Regions from separate parts of the Homo sapiens genome. Here region 2 is linked to region 1. A link means that fine-mapping ties the variant in region 1 to the expression of a gene that starts in the linked region. Tissue or cell type: whole blood. Region 1 holds a variant in brackets; the other region holds the start of a gene. All regions are shown on one strand. Distances are from middle to middle.

Region 1 (2,682 bases):
TCCCTCCCTGGTGTGTGTCACCTTGGCGGTCAGGGTCTCCCTCCCTCCCCTCTGGAGTGCGTTCACCTCTGTACCCTTCTCAAAGAGACTCGCAACCTAAGATTAGACGAGGCCCCAGCCCAGTGTCGGTGACCTAGTGCCCTCCTCGCTGGTGGCTGGAACCTCACCGGGTGGCTCTGCGGTGCCGGCTTCAGAACCCATCACACTGGACCTTGCAGTCCCAGAGTCCCAGAGCCCCAGCCATGCCCAGCCTGCTGCAGACACAGCAGTGCCAGTGAGCATTTGCCGAGCGGACAGTCATCCTCTGCTCCTTGAACTTGTGGGTAACACAAGCCCAGATCCTGGGGTGGGAGGGTGTGGGGAGTGGGGAACCCCTGTTAGGGGCCTCCTCAGGTGGAGCCCACGGCCCTGACCCCAGATGCAGCCGAAACTCGCATAGGCTTGGGAGCCCTGTGGACTGTGCCAGCACCATCCACCCCCCACTGCCTCACCCATCCCCAGGGCACTGCCCTCACCCCCCCCCCCCCGCTGCCTCACCCGTCCCCAGGGCACTGCCCTCACCCCCCACTACCTTACCCGTCCCCAGGACACTGCCCTCACCCCCTGCTGCCTCACCCGTCCCCAGGGCACTGCCCTCACCTGTGGGGTGGCCTCTCAGCACGGGTGTTCCTCCTGCCTGGCCGCTCAGTCAGACCAGGGACTGTGTGACAGTCAGGACTTCTTTCATCTCTTTTAAGATCTCCAGCTTGTTTATTTTGAGATTCCTGTTATTTGTACTTGCCTTTCTCAGGTTAGTTTACGACTTCAGTTTGCAAGCTCAGTTTGAGGGACTCTCTTTCCACGACCACCTGTGGCAGGTGGCCTGAGCTGCCCGGCCACTTCCTGCCATCCTGCCTCCCTCAGCTGCTCCCTGGCCACAGGCTGGACAGTTCCCGCTGTAGCCAGCGGCTGGCCAAGCCCACTCCCTGCAGCCGGCTTCAGGCCGTGTGTGCCGCAGCCCTGGGCACAGTCTCCCCTGGCGTGGATTGGGGGCGTTTGGCCTGACTGTGTCCTGGCCTCACTCTGCCTTCATGTCAGTTGTTCTGAGTCATCTCTGCATTAGGGGAAGGGTTTGGACGTCCAGCCTCTGCAAGCAGGAGCCCAGCCTGTCTGCCCTCACCCCAGAAGTCCCAGTCACAGCAGTTTTGTGGGAAAATGAAAAACTCACAGAGCACAAGACAGGCGTTTTCTTGAGAAGTCAAGCAGCTGAAGCCTCCTGGGACTCGAAATTACACAACTTTTTAGCATATTTTGATCTTAGTCATTTTAAGCATGATAAATACTTGAGTCAAACATTTTGTAT[T/C]ACGATCTTCTTTCAGATAATTAAAACAACCTGTCTCCTGCATGTGTCTGTCTAATTGTATCTATGTGTTTACCTGTGATTTGATGTCATACATGTCTAATTGTATCTATGTGTTTACCTGTGATTTGATGTCATACATCTAATTGTGTGTATCTGTGTGTTTCCCTGTGATTTGATGTCGTACATCTGTCTGATTGTGTGTATCTGTGTGTTTACCTGTGATTTGATGTCGTACATCTAATTGTGTGTATCTATGTGTTTACCTGTGATTTGATGTCGTACATCTGTCTAATTGTGTGTATCTATGTGTTTACCTGCGATTTGATGTCATACATCTGTCTAATTGTGTGTATCTATGTGTTTACCTGCGATTTGATGTCGTACATCTGTCTAATTGTGTGTATCTATGTGTTTACCTGCGATTTGATGTCGTACATCTGTCTAATTGTATCTATGTGTTTCCCTGTGATTTGATGTCATACATCTAATTGTGTGTATCTGTGTTTACCTGTGATGTTGTACATCTGTGTGTTATCTATGTGTTTACCTGTGATTTGATGTCATACATCTAATTGTGTGTATCTATGTGTTTACCTGTGATTTGATGTCATACATCTGTCTAATTGTGTGTATCTGTGTGTTTACGTGATTGATGTCATACATCTAATTGTATCTATGTGTTTACCTGTGATTTGATGTTGTACATCTGTCTAATTGTGTGTATCTATGTGTTTACCTGTGATTTGGAGACTTTTTTTTTTCTTTTGAGACGGAGTCTCGCTCTGTCGCCCAGGCTGGAGTGCAGTGGTGCGATCTCGGCTCACTGCAAGCTCCGCCTCCCGGATTCACGCCATTCTCCTGCCTCAGCCTCCCGAGTAGCTGGGACTACAGGTGCCTACCACCACGCCCGGCTAATTGTTTGTATTTTTAGTAGAGACGGGGTTTCACCGTGTTAGCCAGAATGGTCTCAATCTCCTGACCTCGTGATCCACCCGCCTCGGCCTCCCAAAGTGCTGGGATGACAGGCGTGAGCCACCACGCCCGGCCGTGTCGCAGTTCTTACCATGAGTGGCAAATGCTAGTTTTCTTTGTAGGGCAACTTTATCGAGGAAGGCAGAGTCCTGTGTTCGGGGGTTCCCAAGACCACCTTTAGGTCCAGTGACTCACTGTTGGGACTCACAGAACTCAGCAAAGCCATTATACCCTTGGCTGTAGTTTATTACAGTGAAAAGAAATGGATTAAAATCCACCAAGGGGGCCAGGTGGGGCGGCTCACACCTGTAATCCCAGCACTTGCAAGGCCGAGGCAGGCAGATCGTTTGAGCTCGGGAGTTCAAGAC
Region 2 (2,682 bases), 63 kb after region 1:
CTGGGAGGATGACAGGCTGTGTTTCACCTGCCAATTTGGCGACAGTTTCTCTTTTGGAACATCCCGGGGGACTTTGTTCTGTGCCACCCACCTCTGGACCCTGGGTCTGATGGCTGAGCTGCAGGCTCCAAGGTTCAGCGTCCAGTCTGGCCCTGCTCCGTCCATTCCCCACATTTGAGGGTTTCCCGGAGTTTGGTTCTGCTTCTTCCTCTCTTCCATGAAACTGGGGGCATTGCCCACGCCCCAGTGTCCCCCATCATCTGCCCGGTGGGGACTTGCCCACTCACGTGACTGCAGCCTGTGGGGCCTCCTCCTAGTGTCCCGAAGATACCTGGTCATCCTTGACCCCGCCCGCACCTGCCCGCGTGCCCCCTCGGGTTCTAGTGGAGGACGTGGCCCGCCTGCCACCCCGCCAGGCGCCGGGTCCTCCAGGCCTCCTCGAGCCACCTCCTGCCCACCTGGGATGTCTGTGGGTTCCCGGCCCGGATGCGTCTTGGAGCCTTCTACCCGCACCCCAATCTCCTGCCCCAACAGGCTGGGCCCCTCCTCCCGGGCTGGCCAGGCCAGCACCTCCGCAGGGGCCGCAGGACGCCTGAAGGCCCAGGCCGCAGGTGCAGGACCCTCTGCGGGGGAGCTGGGGGACATCACTCCTCTGCTCTGCGCGCTTTTATGAAAGGGCCTCTGACCCTCCGGGGGTCCAGCTCACTCTGCCCGCGCACTCCCAGGCATCTGGGGGCCGCCCCCCGCCCTCCCTCCCCGCGGCCCACTCGGCCCGCCCAGCTCGCCCCGTGCACAGACTCGAGGCCTCCAGGAGCGGAGCCAAACAGCCCCGCGGGGAACGCGCGCCGCACGCGAGCTGGACCCGCCCAGGCACGAACTCTCCTGGAAAAATGCTCCCGGCGGCTTTCCTGCTTCCTTTAGCGTGAACCGCGGGTGCGGTGCCTCCCGTGAAAATAATAAATTCACCGTCACGCTTGTTGTGAACGCGGGTGGTTCCCGAAACTTGGAGGCTTCCCGTAAACCCAGCTCCTTCCTCATCTGGGAGGTGGGTCCCGCGCGGGTCCGCCGCCTCCTCCCTGGCCCCTCCCTCTCGTGTCTTTCATTTTCCTGGGGCTCCGGGGCGCGGAGAAGCTGCATCCCAGAGGAGCGCGTCCAGGAGCGGACCCGGTGAGGCGCGGAGAGGGGCGGGCGGGGGAACCAGAGGGGCGGGCTCGGTGCTGGGGACTCGGTGCTGGGGACTCGGTGCTGGGGACTCGGTGCTGAGGGCCCGGTGCTGGGGACTCGGTGCTGGGGGCTCGGTGTTAGGGCCTCTTGGTGCACTGGGGTTGCCGGTCCGCGCAGGGATGGGGACTCTGGGGCTGCGGCGCCTCTGCCTCTGGGACCGTCACCCCCCGCTGGCCCTGAGCGTGCGTCGCAGGCCAGGCGGGCGGGGTCGCAGCGGGCGTACCCGAGTATGGGCGGGAACGAGCTGCCGGCCGGTGTGGGGACCCGCGTCCCTGCCCTGTGCGCCAGGCTCGACTCTTGAAGGGACAGAGGCGGCGTCTCGGACCCGGGGCTCCCCTAAGTCCGATGGGTCGGAGCCCCCTCCTCCCTTCCCGGTCCTCGGCCTCACCCGGGGTTCCCTGCGCCGTCGCTGCGACCAAGCTGGGAGCAAAACGCACTCGCTCATATGCGTGCACACAAGCTGGTGGACACACGCACATGAGCACACGCAGGCACGCGTGGACTGTTGCACACTCCACAGCCACAGCCTCGTGTGCACTCACAGCAAACTCATGAAACAGGAACCGTGAGGCTTCCCTCACCCGGCAGGCCCTCAGCTGCCCGTTCTCACGCGGGTTTTGCTGACTCCGCAGTAATCACCACATTCAGTTCCTTGCCCACTACTGGTGAATCACCTGCAGCTTGAGAAGCACGTTTTCTGCCGGTGGTCAGCAGAGGATCCCCGGCTTCTAGGAGGCCCAGGGCGACCGGCTGCAGGAGCCCGCGTAGGAGGCCTGTCTCCAGCAGGGCGGGGGTGGTGGCAGGGCCTCTCCACGGGGCTGCTGCTGAGCCCAGAGCGGGAGGACAGGAGGCCACCAGCAGAGGGGACAGGTGAACAGGTGCTGAGCAGGAAGGGTTAGCCCGGTCTAGCCCCAGGCCTGGGGGGCTTTGCTGCTCACCTGGGGTCCCCTCTGGGCCTGGCTCAGCAGAGACCAGGGCAGAGCCGTCCACACCGTGGGCCTGGGTGGGGTCCATGGCCTCTGCAGGCTGCAGCTGTCTTCTGAGAGGTGTTGGTGTGCTCATTCTCGGTAGAGACGTGGGGTCACCTGTGTTCCCTGAGCCCCTGCAGCAGCTGGGAAAGCAGTGTCAGCCACCCCTCAGGTGCTGTGGGGGTACAGAGTCCACTGACCACACAGGAGGACCCCAATGAACCCAGCCCGAGGGGGCCGGAGCTTCCACACACCCAGCACCCATGGGAGCCGGGACAGGCAGGCGCCCGGGGCACCAGGGAGCGGGAACAGGCATGCGCAGGCGTGCTGGGCGGTGCGTGAACTTTCCTAGGCGTGTCACTGGCATGGCTCCAAGCCTGCGCATCATCGCTTGTCAGGGAGCACTCAGACCCTGCCGTGTCTGGTGCCGGCGCCTCAGATACCGACCCCTGTGTTCGTGGTTTGAGAGAAATCTGATTGCCGCCTCCAT

The links. PIP is the estimated chance that this variant, and not a neighbour inherited with it, causes the effect.
Region 2: it holds the start of SECTM1, and the variant in region 1 is fine-mapped to the expression of SECTM1 in whole blood (INTERVAL, PIP 0.97).

Annotation. Positions count from the first base shown.
Region 1 is chr17:82,395,247-82,397,928 of GRCh38, reverse strand. All of the region lies in intron 8 of OGFOD3 (2-oxoglutarate and iron dependent oxygenase domain containing 3), which reads left to right. LOC124904090 (a long non-coding RNA gene) reads right to left here and starts at 1,048. Exons shown (of 3, transcript XR_007065956.1): 1 at 640-1,048; 2 at 168-341. The variant T/C (reference allele first, on the strand shown) is at 1,343.
Region 2 is chr17:82,332,185-82,334,866 of GRCh38, reverse strand. SECTM1 (secreted and transmembrane 1) reads left to right here and starts at 1,101. Exons shown (of 5, transcript NM_003004.3): 1 at 1,101-1,167. RefSeq lists an enhancer at 1,795-2,597 and a silencer at 2,474-2,682.